Linked DNA regions of Homo sapiens: regions 2, 3, 4 and 5 are each reported to be linked to region 1. The links are microRNA targets in miRTarBase. Many come from high-throughput screens and were not tested one by one. Region 1 holds a microRNA gene; each other region holds the end of a gene's coding sequence.

Region 1 (4,121 bases):
GGAGGCAATTTAACAGTTGGTGTCTATGGCTACTTCAGTGTGTCTCTATAAATAGAGAGCTTTCCAGAAAAACCTTCCTAGTGAATTTTCTTATCAGTCCCTTAAATAGTGTTGACTGAGAGGGAGAAGCAAGGCTATATTAGCTTTTCACCAGTAAGTGAAAGGCATGGCTGATAAATGAGGCAAGGGAGATGTTAGTGAGGTTGAGTAGGTGAACTCTCCACCAGAGAGCAATGAGGGATATTGTTTAAGAGCTGTGGACTCTTTCATCTTGCATGTATATTTTTCCCCAACTAATTATGCACTGGCTTTGGCAAAGAGAATGGATAATTCAGGTAAGACATGTTTGTATTCTGGTTGTCAAGGAGACAGGGAATCCATTTGCTTAGCTTAATGCACAGGTACACTTAGTAAGCACACCCAGCATTTAGATTTCTGGACTTTTACCAAATCTCTACATCTCTGCCCCAAATCTATCTTGAGTTTAGTCATTGTGGCATATTCTCTTCATGTTTCTCTTATCTCTATCACTCCCTCAGCCTATGAAACTGCTGACATAAAATGAAATCCTTTGTGGTGAGAGAGTTTCAGCCAGCAGGAGACTCTGCCCAATGTTGGCAAGCCCCTAGAATGACAGACAGCAAAGAGAACATCTACAGCTCAGCTCCCAGCACCCTTTCCTCAGCCCACAGATCAGCTGGTTCAAAGGACAAGTGACTTACATGGAGTGATGTGGTTGTAAAAGGCTGGAGGGAAAGGGGCTTGGAGCCAGAGGGGAACATGCTGGACTTGAGGGCAAGAAGGCTGAATCATAGATGTTGTTTGGATAAGACAACATTGAGTGTTGTCAAATGCAGGTCAGAAAGTGACAAATGTGGAATTCTGACTAGGAAGGGAGAGAGGATGAGATGTGAGGAAACATGGCAGCAAAGTGTCTTGGATCCAGGTGCTGAGATGACAAGGTTTGCCTGGCAGGATGGTGGGAAAAGTTATGGGACCAGCTAGGTGAGCCTGGCCAGCTGTTCTGTTTCTCCTGGGATCTCTTGTGGAGACTGTTTTGCTTCAGTCAATGGGTAAACTACTACAGAGCCATAACTAGACTCCTTGTGAGTGTTCCCCAGGCCTCATTAGCCTTAGACCCAAGTGAGACGGACGACTGCAGACCAGATTTTGCTTGCCCAGCTGCATGCCCCTGTGGGACTTTGGTCCTCCCTTCACAATACGAGCCCCTCCCCGCCCCAGTATCTCTGAGAGTTCCAAGGCTCTGTCTCCTGTGCTCAGTGGTCAGCTCGGCTGTATAGCCACTGCATCCTAACTTTGTGGTCTGCTCTTTTAAAGGGTCTCACACGAAGTTGCTTGGACTACAGAAGTTTTGTGGATCAGGTTTGAGTTACATGTAATCCTTTCTCTTCAGGACACACTCAGCCATCACCAAAATGGATAGTTAGGAGGAAGCCCAACAAAAGCCACACCTCTCTCTCTCCCATTATCTTCCTTCTCTGGGATCCAACCTCCTTAAGGAGACACACCATTTTCATTTCTTCCAGTTGGCCTTCTTTTGTCTTCTCCTCCCCCATTACAGTTCACCAGTTGAGGAGGCACGTTCAGCAAATATATTGTTGCAGATGAATAAATCAACAAATACAGATATATTCTGAAAATTTGGCATAAATGAGAGGAGCAGATGAAGCGTCAGGCACAGAAAGCCCCCCAGGAGAGGTAAGTCGGGTCAGACGGAGAAGGCTCTGAGGGCTGATGTTATTGGAGATGGGGAAGGTAGATGACCTAGGTGCTTCCATAGCAACCTGGGCTTTCCTCTGAATCACCTGCCATAGTGATGGGACTTTGTTATTGCTCTTTCAGCTGTCTTGCACTAATCTAGGAGCATCAGAGACTGAAGTTTTAATCTCTGTATTCCCAGAACCCAGCTCATTTCCTGATATGGGACAGGTGTTCAAAACACAGAAGAATAGCTCAGGAAAAGATCTGGAGGCAACACAGGCAAATCACAGGCCAGGGGCAGTCAACAACGCTGCTTGGTTTAGAGTGATAGATACATGTAGGGAAATGACAGTTAGCCTTGAGTGCTGAGATTTTACTCAACAATGAGTCAGAAGCCAAAATCAATCCTGGAGTGTGGATCTGACAACAGGGCTTGAGAATTAATTTTTAGGTGTTGTATGTGTTGTGGGGCACAGGGAGGGAGACAGGAAAAAAGAGGCTGTGGGTTGAGGAACCCACCAATGAGGTGCTGCAGGAAGTCAGTGTGAGACAAGGGAGGTCAGGGCTGGAGGGGTACTTAGGGGACTAAAAGGGAGGAGCAGAGGGTAGGGTGAATGAGCAGGAATGAAAGCTGGATTGTATGAAAGACTCAGAGAGTGGGTTTACTCACTTGCTCCTTCACCTTTCATTCATGCATCCACACCTGCCTTCTTCAGCATTGGGCTGTGCAAGTGCCTGGGTTCAGTGATCGTCTCTGCTGGCTGTAGGGCAGCAGTCAGAGGGGACATCACAGGCCTCCAGAGGGTGGCCATGCAGCACAGTGTGGACTCGAGATTCAGTCTGTGCTGGTTAACGTCCTGATTCTGCCTGTGTGGTCCTGGGCAATTTATTTAACTTCTTCAAAGCTCACTCTCCTCATCAGATAATGACCAACTCCATAGGGTTATATGGAGGACTGCCTGAGATAATGCGCTGAGCTAACAAACGCTAGCTATTACACGATAAAGGAATGTTTGTGAAACACCTGCTATGGGTTAGGCACTGTGATAGATGTCAGGATGCCGAGAGAGATAAGACCTCATCTTGTCCTCTAGCACCCCAAAGACAACCTTAGGGGACAGGGAGGGAAATTAGCAAACTACACTGTGTACTGTAATGTGGTAAATAATCTAATAGAAGGATGACATTCGTGCCATGAAATTCAGACAAAGGGATTAATGGGGCTTGGGGAATTCAGGCAGATGCCACAAAAGAAATAGTAATTGAACTGGGCTTTGAAAAGGAGTAGAAATTTGGAAGGTGAGTGGAGGGAGAAATCAAAAAGAATTTCAGATAAAAGGAACATCATGGACAAAAGGAACATCACAGACAAAAGGGACATCATGTACAAAACAGCAAAGGCTAAGGGCCCACCACTCTTGCAGGGTTTTCTTGGGGATGAGAAGAGGCACCACATGCAGGCGGCCGGGCCACAGGTACAGAGGAAGCAGCAACCAACCAGTGAACACTCATTTCCTCCCTCTCTTTGCTGAACTCCACCTATGTCATCTTTAGAAAGCTTATAGCTCAAACCCAGAAAATGAAGAAACATCTCAAAAAAGAGGAGAAAGAAAGCAGGGATCCTGTTCATATCCTTCGCCCACTTTTTGATGGTGGGGTTGTTTGTTTTTTTCTTGTAAATTTGTTTGAGTTCATTGTAGATTCTGGATATTAGCCCTTTGTCAGATGAGTAGGTTGCAAAAATTTTCTCCCATTCTGTAGGTTGCCTGTTCACTCTGATGGTAGTTTCTTTTGCTGTGCAGAAGCTCTTTAGTTTAATCAGATCCCATTTGTCAATTTTGGCTTTTGTTGCCATTGCTTTTGGTGTTTTAGACATGAAGTCCTTGCCCATGCCTATATGAACAGACACTTCTCAAAAGAAGATATTCATGCAGCCAAAAAGCACATGAAAAAATGTTCATCATCACTGGCCATCAGAGAAATGCAAATCAAAATCGCAGTGAGATACCATCTCACACCAGTTAGAATGGCGATCATTAAAAAGTCAGGAAACAACGGGTGCTGGAGAGGATGTGGAAAAATAGGAACACTTTTACACTGTTGGTGGGACTGTAAGCTAGTTCAACCATTGTGGAAGTCGGTGTGGCGATTCCTCAGGGATGTAGAACTAGAAATACCATTTGACCCAGCCATCCCATTACTGGGTATATACCCAAAGGATTATAAATTATGCTGCTATAAGGACACATGCACACATATATTTATTGCGGCACTATTCACAATAGCAAAGACTTGGAACCAACCCAAATGTCCAACAACAATAGACTGGATTAAGAAAATGTGGCAGATATACACCATGGTATACTATGCAGCCATAAAAAATGATGAGTTCATGTCCT
Region 2 (4,121 bases), not on the chromosome of region 1:
GATCAGTATTGGATGAATGATGGGGACATCTTTAAGAATGCATTGGGGATTTGAACTAGCTTCTAAAGAATTAATAAGAGAGAATTGCAAATAAAAAGTATAATCTTTTTTTCCTCCATTTCAGGCTGGCTCACAGTTGGACCAACGCTTACAAATAGCAACTACAATGCAGAAACATATGCATCCTATTTCAGTGCTCCTAATTCCTACTTGACTGGTTGTACAGAAGAAATTGAGAGACTTCGACCAAAATCGCCTCCTCCCAAATCTAAATCTGACCGAGGAGGTGGAGCTCCCAGAGGTGGAGGAAGAGGTGGAACTTCTGCTGGCCGTGGACGAGAAAGAAATAGATCTAACTTCCGAGGAGAAAGAGGTGGCTTTAGAGGGGGCCGTGGAGGAGCACACAGAGGTGGCTTTCCACCTCGATAATTGTTGAAGACATTGAACCTATTCATCCTCCTCTAACCTTCTTTATTGTAATTAAATTTCAAGTGGGAGACTTAACTTTAGAACTCACTTCCAGCTTGCACTTTGCTTTAATTTCTCTGAGCTGCAAGAATGTCTTAGCGAGCCTTGCTTGCAGTTGTCACACACACTGTCTGGTTTTTTTCAGGATAAATGAATGATTCTGCCTTTTGTTATGTGCGTGAACAGAATGGAACAACTCAAGTAGCTTCATCTTCAGAGACTGAATTTATTCTGATAGACTTCAGCTAATTACAAAGGATTTTGCTAATTTTTGGGAATAAATAATGGAAAAAGATCCAGTCTGTGGTATCATGCTAGTGCTGACAGGGCCTTGATAGAATAGAGTTGGAAAAGATGGTAAGCTTTTGTCAGGGTTTTAACATTTTCTTGATGAAACAATAAAAAGAGGTAAGCTTTTTTCTTCTTTTTTTTTAAGTTTTAAATAAACTCAGATATAATTTGAATACTGAAGAAATTAAGAGACTTTGAACAAAAACTCTTCCCAAATCTAAATTTGATAGGGGAGGTGGAGATTCCAGGGGTGGGTGAAAGAAGAGATAGAACTTAGCAGGCAGACTTAAAAAAAAAAAAAAAGTTTATCATCATAATCTCAATTTTGTGGCTATGACTCCTAATCACGCTTCCTAAGAAGCAAAGGAGGACAAATATTCATGTGCTAGATAGCACTGTGGTGTGGACTTGAACTTGGATTGACCTTAAATTTTATATTCCTCAAATAAAAGAGAGGCAGCGACAAGATACCTCATTATCAGATGCTTGGTTTATACATTTTGGGACTAAAATACTTGGTGATGAAATGACATACACCTTTAAACTTGTTATGGAGATAGTTTAATGTAAAACCAACTACGGAAAACCCTCAACTTAAGGATACAGCTTGGAAATTGGAACTGCAATTGCCTTTTATTAAAACCATATGGTGTGATGTTTGTTTTTAAAATTATATAAGACTTTATGCTGTCACTTCTCTTGCTGTACTGTAATTCATGTTTTAAATGAATTTGATAATGAAATTATACTATTATCATTCTTGATGAATACTTTTCTTATTTTTATGATTTTTCTAATGAAACTTTAAACTTTTGAGATTTGAGAGTCTGTTTTCTATAAGTAGAATTACTGTTGTTACAAAATGAAAAAGGACTGACCTAAAATCAGTCTCTTCTTTTGGTCTGTGATGGATTTTAATGGCCGTTCTGTGCTCATATATACCTAAGATGAGATTATATTACATCCACCAAAGACTCAGTTTGAAGATAAGGAATGAGTGATAGAAGAAATAAGGCTGAGATCCTTAAAAGCCTAATTAATTTAACTCGCTTAACCCATTAGTACTATCTAGTACAAGACCCCTTTTTTTTTGCTGAAATTATGGTATATTTTCAACTTCACTAATTACAAATTATCTAGATTTAGAACTCTATATGTCAGCATTGACCTGGGAATGAAGTCAGGATAGAGAAATTCCACTTGCCTGTGATGGGTCCTTAGAAGTATCAGCTAAGGAGTGACCCTGTCCTATACACAGGGCTCTCTATTACGTTCCATACCCTGGGCCTACCCAAGGTGACATTCCTGCTGTTTACATGGCATAGGCACCTGTGAGATCAGTGTCACAATTTCATCTTAGAAAGAGGTAGGTATGGCTGCTTTGTCGGTTGAAAGTTAAGGGGAGCCATGATCTACCATATTTAGGAAAAAGTTATTTAAAAAAGAGCAGATGGTGGAAAAAGAATGTAAGACCCAGAATTTATCCCTTTGACAATGAATCTGGCCTTTTTAATAGCAGGATGGAATTGATTCACTAGTTTTTGCTAACTTTCACTTTCAGTAAAGGTTGAGGTGTTGTTTTTGCAATGACTGTGTATTCATTGAGGAAAGGTTTCCAATGAAATTTCATTACTCTGACCTCTTCTAATTTTTGGTCTTCTTTATATTTACATGTCTTACATTCCACAAAATTATTTAGAAATGCTGGGCATGGTGGCTCATGCCTGTAATCCCAGCACTTTGTGAGGCCGATGTGGGTGGATCACTTGAGGTCAGGAGTTTGAGACCAGCCTGACCAATATGGAGAAATCCCATCTCTACTAAAAATACAAAATTAGCTGGGCGTGGTGGCATGTGCACGCCTGTAATCCCCGCTACTCGGGAGGCTGTGGCAGGAGAATTGCCTGAACCCAGGAGGCGGAGGTTGCAGTGAGCCGAGATTGTGCCACTGCACTCCAGCCTGGGCGACAGAGTGAGACTCTGTCTCAAAAAAAAAAAAAAAAATTGTATAGAAATAAATTTTTAGTTGCTTTATGCACTAATTCCTTACTGGGGATAGAAGCTAATTATTGTGAAATAACCTAGTTTAGAAGTTAGAAGATCAGCATGTCTGAGTTTTTACAGAATTATAATTCATGGTATTCCAAACCAACTGTTGTTATTTATTTCCAGTGAGAACCATTTTCCCACTGACCTTCCTCCTTTCAGAGGATGGGGATTAGGAGGCCCAAAGTACTGATTGAGTAGGAATACTTTTTTACTCTTCTTCACTGTGGAGAAAGAAGAGGGCAGGTAGTTGATGATGTCAGGAGAACAGATTTTATGGTGTGGAATACCATACCTAAACACAAATGAATCAGATTAGACCACAGAATTGTGATGATGGCAGTCAGAATGTAATACGGTCATCATGAAACAGCACAGTGTGAGAGGTCAAGGTGTCAACCTGGGAAGTGAGAATCAAGCAGGAGTGTGGCATGGCAACCAACTCACAGATCCAGAGTTGAGAGGGATCACTACTGCAGCAGTTCTGCTCTGTTACTCTGGTAAGTAGTAGAGCCACTTTATGAGCCCTTATTTCCTATCTCCCTTATTCTGAGGCCAGGTCAGTGATATGCTATAGTTTCATTTAAGTTAATGGAGTATAAAGATGGGATACTTGGGAGCTATATTGTGCATCAGGGTGTCACAGCTGCTACTAGGAGTTACTCCTTTTCATGTCTTTTAAAATACTTTCTACCCATCTTAATTGCTAAATTATCTTTCAGTTAGTTACAGCGCTTAATTTAAAACCTGTACTGTTTTCATCCTGAATTTAGAACATAAGATTTAGCCTTTGAAGTATAGTTTCAGACTTTACTAATTTGTTTAATATAATCCTTATTAACATGACAAAATGAAAGCCCTGTTGGGACTTAGTCTAAACAGTAGTCTTTGATCTGAAAGTGTCTCATATTTTGTGATCTATTAGAAACATAAACCTTTGCTTATGCAGAAGGTCTTTCTTAGAACAATCCTGTAATCTTAGGGTTCATGTGTGACTAGCATTATCCTCTCTTTGATGTTGGGTAATAGAGGCTGAACTTTTCTTGTGTATATATAGTTAGTTTTGAGGCCATAAATCTAGGACTTCTCAAAAGATTAGAACATTTATCCAGTAAACTGACTCCATTGAAGACTTCATTTCTGGAAATACCACATTGCTTCTGCTCTCAATAACTCTATCATTTACTCGTATAAATATTGCTAGCTGTAATGCACAGAGAAAAACTACCTCATTCAATCTAGATAATTGGGACATCCTTTTCCAGTAAACCCTTTTTCCACTACTGGATAAAATATTAAAATGATCAGTTTGAGTG
Region 3 (4,121 bases), not on the chromosome of region 1:
AGTGGGGAAGAGACAAGTGCATAAGATGCCTTAGAAGCTCCGAAGCTATAGTAATCAGATCTCTTAGTTATGTGAGAGAAACTCAATCTGAAACAGTTTAGATGAAAAGGGAGAATTCATTAGAAAGGTCATGTTACCATGGGAAAGGCAGAGGTCCAGCCAGACTGAATGGTAACAGAAACCAGGAACTTGAACATCACAGGGCTTTGCTTCATCTCCATTTGTACCCATTATCTCAGTTTGCATTTCTTTACTTGAGACTAAACAGAGTCACATCTCCCACCTTCATGGCCATAGAGGGACTGAGAGATGAACACTCAAAAAATGTTAATTATTATTAAGGCTTGACTTAAAAAAACTATAAGATCTATATATCATTCAGTGGGCTCAAGTATCTCTTAAAAAGTTGCCAGATTCTGAGCCATATAATGAAAGAAAAGTATTTACGAACATGTGTCTTACAAAGGACTTTAATACAGTATATATAAAGAACTTTTACAACTCAATAAGACAAACAATCCAATTAAAAGTGGGCAAAAGATTTGACAGCCACTTCACAGAAAATATACAACTGGCCAAAAAGTACCTTAAAAGATGCTTACCAGCATTAGTCACCCGGGGAAATGAAAATAAAACCACAATGAGATACCACTAGATTCCCATCAGAATGGCTGAAAACTGAGTGTTGGCAGTTGGAACTCTATACAACCCTGGTGGGAATATAAAAGGGTATAGCCCCTTTGGAAAACAAACAGTTTGGCAGTTACTTTATTAAACATAAATCTGCCATGCAACCCAACCATTTTACTGGTAGGTATTTACCCAAGAGAAAGGAAAACCTATGTCTACACAGTGGCTTGTACACAAATGTTCCTAACAGTTTTATTCACAGTAGCCCCAAACTGGAAACAATCCCAAGGTCCATCAACAGGTGAGTAGAAAAACAAATAATGGCATATTCACATAATGGGACACTACTCAGCAATAAAAGGAATAAGCTACTGATACACTGCAACCTGGTGAATTTCAAAGTCATTGTGTGTGAAAGAAACCATAAACAAAAAAGTACATGCTACACAATCCCATTTATATAAAATACTAAACACCACCACAAAGCAAACTAATATATGGTGACAAAGACAAATCAGCAGCGTGAGGGATGGACTGCAAAGGAACTTGAGGAATCTTTTGGGGGCGATGGAAGTGTTCTGCATGTTGATGGTGACAGTGGCTTCATGGCATATACATCTGTCAAAATAACCATTGAGTTGTAATTCTAAACAGATACAGTTTACTGTAACTTGATAAAGCTGAATTTAAAAAGCTGCCAGAGTATTCTGAAATCATGCCTTCTTTTCTCCCTCTGGACCAAGCACCCGCCCAAGCAAGCCAACTTTAACAAAATTATCTCATAGATTTTGGATTTTTTTTTTTTTTGCCATGTTAAAGTTGTATTAAGTTTCAATACAAAACATTCCAAAAAGTGAAAAGTGATCTATAATACCCAAGTTCTATGTTCAACTACCACTTAAACAAGGAAAACATTTTCTAATATCATTCTGTTTTACAACCAGTATAAACCCAGAAGAATCAAGATCTGATTCTTTTTCCACACGTCTGCTAGTTCAGTAAACTATTTATCAAACAGGTGTCTGGTCATTTTAACATACTCCTTGCTTTGAACAATATTCATTCATATTTGGTACAAACTCTATATCCTATATTTAGGATATCTAAATATTTTAAATATTTAGGATATCTTAAGAGCCAAAAGGTCCTCACAGAAGCTTTAACCCAAGTAATCATAAGAATATGGAAGGATTCGGCTAAGACAACTATGGAAGTGTAACAACCACATAAATTTGGTCATTACCCTTGTGGTCTGTGATTAGTAGTAGTCTGCCAAATGAGAGTTAAAAATGTTGTACTTACTATCCCTAGTTGCAAATGTTAAAACATGACAGTGCCATAATTACAACAAAAAAAATTAGAAGTTGAGTTAGTTCCTCTAATCCAACAACTCAAGTCTGTTTCCTTTGAGAACATTACACTATTGGCTCTAGTCTCCAAAGCAATAAACTAAAACTTGTTTCCAAGACGGGGAGGTAAAGCAGGCTTATAAAACAATACAGCAAAAGAAAGCCAAGTGGCCCAATTGTTTCCAGTGTGTTTGCCATCTTAGCATGGTTGTTACTTTCCAGATGTCACTCATAAGTTTTATTCTACAACTAAACTGTTTGTGGATAAGCCACCACAAAAAAATGTTTCACTTACTGACAAGACACTTCACCAGATAGAGCTACCACTTATATCCATCATTTTTATAATTCATCTTAAGTTCTAAATTGAAGAGTTGTCCCCATGACTTTAGCTAAACAAAATGAAACCCAAAGCTGTAAAATCTGTGTAAAGGACCACGAGAACCTCCTGACTACCTCCACTTACCAATTTCCTTAATTACTTCCCCTTTTCCATTTGGTCAATTACTTAAGTAACTACCACTCACTCCCTAGTTATGAGTGTTAATCAACACTGATGCCTTCCTGAGATCCACAGGAACCCTTGAAGGCAAAATCTATTGCCTGCACCAAACCAATTCTGACAGCACTGCTTATGCAACTGCACTGACTTACCAACAATCAGCCGCCTTCTGCTTCAACAACTCTTAGCATTTGATTTCTCTTACTGCCAGCGTTATCTACTGTGAATCAATCAGCACTCCACAAACATAATGAGCACAATCTTCAACCATCTTTGCTGTTTCACAGGCATTTGATGCTTTAAATCTGATGTGGAATGCTGATAGATTCACTTTTTAGAAGTCATAAGCCTTTAGGAAGTTGGAGATAAATTCATTGCTTATCTATTTTCTCCTTTGCAATCAAGCTGTTCCTTTAAAAGTGAGACATTAGAGTTGCAAAAATTTGAAAGAGTAAGAGCAAGCACCTTTGCAGCTTCATGGTTGGTTTTGGCCAAACTTTTTATTTAGTATTCCGTAGTTGTTTAGCACACACTTAAATGGTCTTATTGTGGGAGGGGAAAGGGGAGGTTCTTGCAGATTCCCAAGGAAATGTCAGAAAGGCAAAATGGCCAGCATTATCCATTTGCTTTTTTTGGGTTTACTGGGTGAATAGCACTTTCCTTACATAGGCATCTGATTTCAGGTTTTGCATACTGAGAACAGTGAGATTTCAGTTAGAAAACACCCTGAAATCTTATGAGTAGCATACTCCAACCACCCTCTAATAGCTAGCTTGTTTGTATAGGCAGAATGATTCATCTCTCCATTTTAGTTGGCTAGATGTTTTGTGGAAGATCTTAGAATTGCTTGCCTCATTTACTGGGAAAAACCAGATAGGAAGTGGTCTTTAGGGACACCTTTACTTGGAAAGTTACAACACTAGTACTACAAGGCTTAACACATTTAACATTTGCTTGTTGAAAAGCAATGTCATAAAGTCAAATAAAATTAAACATGTTTTACTTTTTTCCTCACAAGAACATAAAAATTACGGAAGGGACTTAACAGGGAATTTAAAAAAGGTAACACAATTTTTCCTTTTAGTAGTCCTTGGGTAGTTATGATAGAATAGTTTCCACTCTTTTTTTTGTTTCTTTGAACTGGGATTTTGGTCCAAAGTTTTGTTTGTTTCTAGTATCTGCTTCTGCCTCCCCCTCTATCAGATCGGCTTCCTCCAGGGCCAGCACCTCTTGGTGCTCCGCGGCTTGAACTGCTGTAGGAATCACGTGAAGAAGGGTACCCCCTTTCTACAGAAGGGGGAAGCCCTCTTTCTTGTCTGCCAACCCTGTCACAACTTGAGTAGAGATCACTTCGGCTGCTTGAGTAACTGTCTCGACTTCCACCATATCCATCACGTGAGCTGCTATAATCATCATAGCGACTGCTTCCACCATAAGATGGCGGGGGCCCTCGTGTAAGTGGAGCACTACGTGAGTTACCATAACTCTCATATGAATCTCTGTAGGAACCTCCACTTGGATGATCTGAATAGTCACGATCACGACCATATCCATCTCTATCGCCATAGCCTCTTGATGGATAGTCATCACGTGAACTGGAATGACCATAATCACGGTAAGTATAATCTCGTGGTGGTGGT
Region 4 (4,121 bases), not on the chromosome of region 1:
AAGGTAAAGCTTTATAATTTAGAAAAAATATTTTTCCTCTTAAAAAAGTCCTTCCAAATAGATTTAAATTAAGGGCTCCACTCTAGCATATATGAGTGACTGAAAATTAGGTGAGAGAGTACATAGAGAAAGGGTATCTACAGTCATTCCCTAAAGTTTCCCACATGAATCTGTGCAGCTCCCATGATAAAGGAAGATGTTTTACTCACACTGATCAAGCATAGACGAATTAAATTTTTATCATCTTGGGTATACTATTTTCTTCTCTTGCCCATGATCCTGACTATATTCAGTAAAATTTCAGTGTAAAAAAATCCATCTTTATAGGAAATTTTTCTGGAGGAGATGGGAGAAGGCTGGGAGAAAAAATGTATATACGATACAAATATTACCTTTTGTAAAGTTCTTTGCAACAGTGTTGTAAATTGCATTTCAGACACTTCAAAATAATAAACATACAAAATACAGTACTTTCTTAGTTTTCTGGCAGAGGGACAAAAGATTTCATGCCTGTCAGAGGACATGGGCTCAGATTTTAGGCTCAAAATACAGTGAATTGGCAATAATAGTGGATTACAGGTAAGAGAGAAACTAAAGATCTAAATCCATTAGGTTTCACGTGCAGATGGAATTCTGAAAGGCTAACAACAATGCCCACTGGAAACAATCTGTAGTATCTATACTCTGAACCAGTGCAAAAAAAAAAAAAATCAAAATGCAATTTTCATGAGTTACAAAGTGCAAAGCTCCCCTGAATCCAATGTTACTGATAAACTCAGTTTTGATAGCTTTATAGTACTTTTTAATACCTTAAAGTGTAATCAATAAAAGTTTTGTAAAACAATTTCCCACGTTTCAGTGATTTAACTGATTTAAAATGATCAAAGTCCTAACTTCCTTTGTTACTATCACCTTAATTTTAAAAGGAAAGTTATACTGGTGATACATTAGCAAAAGTTTTAAAATATCATCTTGCATTTTCCTGATTCATTTTAGTAAATGAAAATGGGCATCTAGCCAATATGATTCTTCAATAAACACAATCTATTTGCAAATAATTTAAATATGTTAAGCTATTCACAATTATATAAAAGTTCAACTTTATTTCTAATATTCAAGTTGGACTCATTTAGGCAATTTCACTTCATTTTCATTATGATTTTTTTTTCTTTTGAGACGGAGTTTTGGTTTTGTTGCCCAGGCTGGAGTGCAATGGTGCAGTCTTGGCTCACTGTAACTTCCGCCTCCTAGGTTCAAGCAATCCTGCCTCAGCCTCCCGAGTAGCTGGGATTAGAGGTGCCCACTACCACGCCCAGCTAATTTTTGTATTTTTAGTAGAGACGGGGTTTCACCACGTTGGCCAGGCTGGTCTCAAACTCCTGAGCTCCGGTGATATACCTGTCTCAGCCTCCCAAAGTGCTAGGATTACAGGCATGAGCCACCGCGTCCAGCCTTTTATCATGATGAATTTTAAAAGATATGCTTTAAAACTGAAAATTACAAAACTTTCCTTCTGAAATTAAGGCTGTATTCTTTGCCCTTTTAAACTATGGAGGTGCCTGTTCCTCCTACTATCCATGGTAAAGATGCAGACACAACTTTCCTTTAAAACTGCTTATTGCACTAAAAGATAGCAAAAACAAGTTGTCAGTTCTTAAAATAAACATGATTATATTTCTATAAAAGATGCTGCCAATACAATTCTATAATTATTAAAGCACTATTCTAATAAATATAAAAGAAAAGGAAGCTATACTTCCAAACACATACATATGTGTTTATATACACACACATACATATATATATATAAAAAATATATGAAAATCACATTAAGGTATGAGAGGCAGCAAGTAAACTATCAAAAAACAAAACAAAAAAATCCCTCAACAAACTCTTCTCTCTACTCAATTTCAGAGGTCTCAACCCTACAGAGCTCTAATCTTTTAAAATATTTACCCTTTATAAAACCTTTAAAGAATTTCCATGTATAACCCATAGAAACAGAAGGCTTCAGAATACACATCACTTACCAGAGAGAAAGTTACAACTTCTGACAGGTTTTATATTTATAGCAGCTTTAACAAACTCACTAAAGAAAAAGAATAGTAGGCCGGGTGCGGTGGCTCATGCCTGTAATCCCAGCACTTTGGGAGGTCGAGGCGGGTGGATCACAAGGTCAAGAGATCGAGACCATCCTGGCCAACACGGTGAAACCCCGTCTCTACTAAAAATACAAAAATTAGCTGGGTGTGGTGGCACATGCCTGTAAACCCAGCTACTCGGGAGGCTGAGGCAGGAGAATTGCTTGAACCCGAGAGGCGGAAGTTGCAGTGAGCCGAGATCTCGCCACTGCACTCCAGCCTGGTGACAGAGCGAGGCTCTGTCTCATTAAAAAAAAAAAAGAAAGAAAAGAAAAAGAAAAAAGAAAAAGAATAGTTCAGGTTGCTACTGCTTATATACAAATTGCGCAAATGGTAAATGTATGTTCTGAGTGGGAGGGGAGAGACGCACTCTCACAGAAAGTTATTTTATGTATATATATGTGTGTGTCTGTGTCTGTGTATGTATGTATACATATATATATAAAATTTTGTTTCTTAAGACAGCAATATCAAGAGTTGAGAACTCAGAATTGTGTATGAGATAGGAGTCAGGAGTAGGGTATGCAAAATAAAAGTAGAATTCTAGTTTGCCATATTTTATATTCAAACGAACCAGATACATCAACATTTGAATGTCACTGGTAGGACTGGGAAAAAAATGTAGGTGATGAAGGCAAGGGAAATAGAGAAATAAAGGCGGTAGTGGGGGTAGAATAAAAGGGAAAGAAAATTCCCCAATGGAATGAACTCTAAAATATATAACAGACACATATATATCTATTATCAATCCAGATCTAGATATATATGCATATGAAGTATGGATGTATATATTTTAAAAATACACAGACACCTTTTACAAGAATATATGAATGCACATTAATTTTTTGCACACATAATTCTGAAAAATCACTTTGATTATTCATGAAGGTGTGTATTTTTTAAACCATCATTTACTTTTTCTTTACTTTTTTTTGCAAAGATAGTTGTGCTGCCAAGCAACTTGAGGTAAAGGCATTAAAAGGGTTAGACTACAAGAAATGAAAACAAAACAATTGCGATACTTCCTATAGGAGACCGCACAAAAAGCAGTTGGCTGGTTTCATATTGCATAATGATGCTGTGTTCCTTGATGAAGTAAACAATCTTCCTTGTATTAACATAAGGATCAGACCTTGGCCCCCACACAGTGTTGGTTTCTGTATGGCTGGAGGTGTCCTTACTCAATTGACTTCACTGGAAACATACGTTGTATGTCAATTCATCTTTCAGTACTTCCTCTCAGAGAATATACTTGGACTATTTAAGCGAAGTACATTGTGCGTAAGGTATCTTGGTGAATCTGTACAGCCTTGGCAAGAGCTTGTGGATCTCGCCCATTGCTTTGTCCTGAAACGTGACTTCCTTCAGCACTGTAAGAGAAGTGGCAATGAACACAAAAACAAACTTTCTATTCTGATGTAATAATTCCGAAAAATACTATTTGTTGTAGAAAATTTCAAAATTATTAACAAATAAGAGACTGGTGTAACAATCTATGTGTCCATCACTCAGCTTCAATCACTATTAACTCAAGGCCAATTTTGTTTTACTTCTCTCACCTCCCCAGAATTAATTAGAAGCAAACCTAGATATCGTATCATTTTGTCTATCTGTCTGAATGTATCACTTTATTACCAATAATCTCTCCTTTGAATTAATGTAGTAAAACAACTAAGTTACTACATGATTCTATTACTAATGAGCCTAGACAATATATTTCAATAGGAAACCTTGGGCAGTCAGTTCTGTCATCATTTTTCACATGGATCACTGACTCCGCTAATAGCTTGTGGAACTTGAAAATCCTACCATGCAGACAATATTGGGATTTGGGTGAGAACCTGTTATGCTTTTATATTACCTGTCATGTTCTTTGTCCACAAGATGATATCTGGCTCTAAATGCTACCAGGTGAGCATAATACGCTGGTGCAGGTATAGAAACAGATCGTGTACAGCGTACGTAAGTGTGGCAGAGCTG
Region 5 (4,121 bases), not on the chromosome of region 1:
GAGTGCAGTGGCGCGATCTCGGCTCACTGCAACCTCCGCCTCCCGGGTTCAAGCAGTTCTCTGCCTCAGCCTCCCGAGTAGCTGAGATTACAGGCTCCTCCCACCACGCCCGGCTAATTTTTGTATTTTTAGTAGAAACGGGGTTTCACCATCTTGGCCAGTTAAAGGCATATTTTAAAATGTTACTCCCTTGCTTAACATCCTTACAAATGTTACTCTCTTGCTTAACATCCTTAGTGGCCTTTGGAAATGCTCCAACCTGGTACTGGAAGTTCTTAAGAATCTGGCTTTTACCTACCTTTGAAGCCTCGCTCTCTCTCTCTTAGCATTTTCTCGACACATCTGCTTTTCAAAAACCAAGCTATCCTCATTGTTCCTAAAGCAGCTAGGCTCTTTCGGGCACCAGTGTCTTTCACTATGTTATTCTCTCTCCCTGAAATAGCTCTTTACTTGGCAAAGTCCTATGGATCTACCAGAGCCTCTTGGATAGCATCTCTTTTGGGAACCCTCTTAAGGACCCTCAGACCATACTCCTCCCGGATTTATTTCTTGCTTAACACAGCTTGACTTCCCGGACAGACTGCGACCTCCTTGAGGATGGAATCGGTATTTTGGTTAAATTTATTTCTGCATGGGCCTTGCACATAAAAAACGTTTATTGAACAAACGAATCCTGTATGTTCCTCCCCCCAGGCAGGAAACGCTCCCTGGGAGGGAGGGTAGTCTATTGGTGAGCTAGGACGTTTGGACTCAGGGTTCCGAGGAACCAGGAGCGATCCTTAGTGGGCCGAGACTTCCGAATTTGATCAAAGGTAAAGAGGGACTGGAGAGCGGTCCATCTGACTTCTGTGGGGGATGGGCAGGAGTCAGGGGCGGACGCCTGAATCTTGTTTCTCAGAAGAGCCGAGAGGCCTAGGCTCAAGCTTGGGGCGATCCGGTACTTGGAGGTTCGAAGCTCCTAGTTTCGGGTTGAGACCGATGTGGAGGGCGATGACGCGCGGGTTCCTTGACATCGAGGATCAGTAACACCCGGAGTGGGTGGGGAACGAGGGGGGCGGCCCCTGAGCTCAGGCCCCGCCCCTTTCCGGGGACGTTTCACCGGATTGGCTGTCCTTCCATAACGACATGCGGCCCCGCCCCGGCGCGCGCCCCGCCGCGTGCCCAGCCCGGGTAGCTGCTGCAGCCTACGCTGCCTCGGCCACTGCCTGCCGCGTGCGGAGCCGGAGCCCGAGCCTGAGTGGCGCCGGGCCCGACGTGGGGCTCCTGGGCCGCGGCGGCGGGCGGGCGATGCTCCAGAGGCCTGACCAGCCATGGAGGCCGAGGCAGGCGGCCTGGAGGAGCTGACGGACGAGGAGATGGCGGCGCTAGGCAAGGAAGAGCTAGTGCGGCGCCTGCGGCGGGAGGAGGCGGCGCGCCTGGCGGCACTGGTGCAGCGCGGCCGCCTCATGCAGGAGGTGAATCGGCAGCTGCAGGGCCACCTGGGCGAGATCCGCGAGCTCAAGCAGCTCAACCGGCGTCTGCAGGCAGAGAACCGTGAGCTGCGCGACCTCTGCTGCTTCCTGGACTCGGAGCGCCAGCGCGGGCGGCGCGCCGCACGCCAGTGGCAGCTCTTCGGGACCCAAGCATCCCGGGCCGTGCGCGAGGACCTGGGCGGCTGTTGGCAGAAGCTGGCCGAGCTGGAGGGCCGCCAGGAGGAGCTGCTGCGGGAGAACCTAGCGCTTAAGGAGCTCTGCCTGGCGCTGGGCGAAGAATGGGGCCCCCGCGGCGGCCCCAGCGGCGCCGGGGGATCAGGAGCCGGGCCAGCACCCGAGCTTGCCTTGCCCCCGTGCGGGCCCCGCGACCTAGGCGATGGAAGCTCCAGCACTGGCAGCGTGGGCAGTCCGGATCAGTTGCCCCTGGCCTGTTCCCCCGATGATTGAAGGCACTGCTTCCTCCACGCCGACGCCCGCCCGGATTGCTCCCCGAGCCCCGGGACCGCTGTGGACCTCGGGACCTGGACGCCGTCCTGGCTGCGCAGGAGGGGCCGCTGGCATGGACTAAGAAATCCTGACACCAAGAAGGGCCCCTCGCTCTTGCTGGCAGGGCAGCAGGGGGACTGAAGGCTGGAGCGGAGGGACTTGCTGGGGGTTGGATTGGGGGTAATAAACCCGGACGGAAGCGGAGCCCACGGCCTGGGCAGCGTCTGTTTGGTACTCGCCGGGGTTGGGGCGAGGGTGGGGTGCTGATACAGGGTACAATTCCCATCCAGAAGGACTGCAGAACTAATGATTCCCCCATTACTTCGAGCCTGGGGTGGGATGCGGGGCAGTGGTAAACCAGACTTCCCCCATCGGGCGCCGGGACCGGCCTTAATCCAGCCCCTGAAGTGGCTCCAGCTCCCTTCCCGGCTCCTTCCTGTCCAAGACAATGGGGCAGGAAGCAGGTGCTGGGGGCCTAGAACCACTCGGCCGCCTCCTCTGAGGCTGGAAGGGGGCATAACAGCGCCCCTCCGTGGCACACGCAGCAGCACTGTGGGCCCCCACGGGGAGAGGGGCGGTAAGCCTCTTCGCTTTTACCCCAGAGGACTGTCTCCCCTCAGTCCCGGAGATGAGGCCGAGCGGATGTAGCCCCACTTGTCAGATAAGACAAAGTCCAAAAATATCAAAGAATTTGTCCAAGGTCATGCAGTGAGTCTGTAGAGCTAAGGCTGGGACCTAGGGCTCCAAATACTCTCCCATTGGCCTCTGGGTCCAGTGAGGCACTCAGGCCACAGCTTCAAGCCTTTTATTCCATTTTGGTAGGTTTGTATAAAAATACTCTCTTTAGGAAAATAAATAGCAGCTGCCCTCGCTGTGGAGGCTTGGATTCCCTGGAGCTGAAGGCTTCTCAAAGCTGAGATCCGCAGATCAGCTCATCACAGAAGCCAAGGGCGCCTCCTGAGCTGTGCGGTTCAGGAGGGGGCGGCAGAATGGCCTGGTCCAATCACCTGCTGCTGCTGGCAGTGGGGCTGGTGAGTTAGTGTTCTAGGTGGGTAAAGTGGCACCTTCTGTCAGGAGATAGGGTTGGGTGGATCACAGGAAGAGGGTGATGGAGAGTGTGGCAGTGATCTGGAAGGGGTTAGGGCTCCAGAGGACCTCTAAGGATCTACAAAGTCTCTGGGCTGCCAGGATTCCTCTGGCACAAATGGGAAATATTTTGTCTCTGATTTAGTGCAAATTGTGCTAGAGAGGCCAGCTCAAGAGAAACAGTGGGCAGCTTTGGTGGCCCCAAGCTGGCTCTACTGTGAAGCACAATATGGTCAGTCTCATTAGAGGGATGGAGAAGAAGTTGCTGGAGTTGGATGTGGGATACTGTCCAGGCCAGCTGGACCGGTGGGGGAAGGGGAGGAGACATTGGCTAGGGTGGCATCTGCAGGGAGTAGGGCTCAGGCGCCTCACAAAGCGAGGAGGGTTGGAGAGCCAAGGGGGTCAGAGGATGGGTCTCCGCTGCTGCTGCTACTCTTGCGATGAGCTGAGGCACAAGGCTCAGGAGTGCTGGGGTAGGTGAAGACCAGGCTGGGGGTGAAAGGAGTTAGGGAGGGTGTGGTCATGAGTGTGGGGGTGTGCAGTGCCTCAGGTTCAAGCACAGGCCCTGGGGAAAGGGAGATACAAGGTACAGGGCGGCAGGGGGCTGGTGGGCTGCTGGTGCCACTGGTACTGCCTGTGTCCCCCTCCTTGGCTCCTTCCGGGATTTTGCAGATGGGTCGGTGGGCTTCCAGCACCAGCTCTAGGCGCTCCTTCTGCTTCTGCAGCTCCTCAATCTCTCGCTGCAGCCCAGATTTCTCATCTTCCAGTTTGTCAGTCTCCTGTAGAAGATCAGGAGAGGAGTCAGAAAGGTGAGGGCTGAATACCCCAGAGCCGCAGACGTTTGGACTCAGGGTTCTGAGGAGCTGGGGTTGGGCGGGGGGAGAGGGGGGGCAGTGGAGAGTCCCCAGCAAGTCTGGACTACAACTCCCATAAGCCCCTGGGAGAAAATGGGCACAACTCCCATCAGGCCCAGACGTTTTAGGAGATTGCTGGCACCAGGCAGTGACTCCGGCCTGTAATCCCAGCACTTTGGGAGGCTGAGGCGGGCGGATCACTTGAGACCAGGAGTTTGAGACC

The links. Region 1 holds the annotated microRNA hsa-miR-8079 (CAGUGAUCGUCUCUGCUGGC, at 2,465-2,484, shown strand). A microRNA usually pairs through its seed, bases 2 to 8, with sites in the 3' UTR of a target mRNA and lowers its output. Matches are read on the target gene's strand: a 7mer-m8 pairs with bases 2 to 8, a 7mer-A1 pairs with bases 2 to 7 and ends in A, and an 8mer does both.
Region 2: miRTarBase lists METTL14 as a target of hsa-miR-8079. Seed matches in the 3' UTR shown: 7mer-m8 at 2,520-2,526 and 8mer at 3,271-3,278.
Region 3: the mRNA of RBMXL1 is a reported target of hsa-miR-8079. Seed matches in the 3' UTR shown: 7mer-m8 at 1,490-1,496.
Region 4: miRTarBase lists AGO3 as a target of hsa-miR-8079. The part of its 3' UTR that is shown has no 7-base or 8-base seed match.
Region 5: the mRNA of FOSL1 is a reported target of hsa-miR-8079. Seed matches in the 3' UTR shown: 7mer-m8 at 3,081-3,087.

Annotation. Positions count from the first base shown.
Region 1 is chr13:44,194,534-44,198,654 of GRCh38, reverse strand. MIR8079 (microRNA 8079) reads left to right here and starts at 2,455; the gene lies at 2,455-2,526.
Region 2 is chr4:118,709,874-118,713,994 of GRCh38, forward strand. METTL14 (methyltransferase 14, N6-adenosine-methyltransferase non-catalytic subunit) reads left to right here. Exons shown (of 11, transcript NM_020961.4): 11 at 125-4,121. The coding sequence ends at 429. Among named protein-coding and RNA genes, the nearest start is that of METTL14, 27 kb to the left of the region's middle.
Region 3 is chr1:88,979,002-88,983,122 of GRCh38, forward strand. RBMXL1 (RBMX like 1) reads right to left here. Exons shown (of 3, transcript NM_001162536.3): 3 at 455-4,121. The coding sequence ends at 3,653. All of the region lies in intron 2 of KYAT3 (kynurenine aminotransferase 3), which reads right to left. Among named protein-coding and RNA genes, the nearest start is that of KYAT3, 12 kb to the right of the region's middle.
Region 4 is chr1:36,055,027-36,059,147 of GRCh38, reverse strand. It overlaps AGO3 (argonaute RISC catalytic component 3), which reads right to left. Exons shown (of 19, transcript NM_024852.4): 18 at 4,003-4,121; 19 at 1-3,511. The coding sequence ends at 3,403. Among named protein-coding and RNA genes, the nearest start is that of TEKT2, 27 kb to the left of the region's middle.
Region 5 is chr11:65,889,474-65,893,594 of GRCh38, forward strand. FOSL1 (FOS like 1, AP-1 transcription factor subunit) reads right to left here. Exons shown (of 4, transcript NM_005438.5): 4 at 2,576-3,823. The coding sequence ends at 3,413. CCDC85B (coiled-coil domain containing 85B) reads left to right here and starts at 1,200. Exons shown (of 1, transcript NM_006848.3): 1 at 1,200-2,162. The coding sequence starts at 1,311. The coding sequence ends at 1,919. RefSeq lists a silencer at 991-1,470 and enhancers at 2,611-2,660, 2,701-2,860.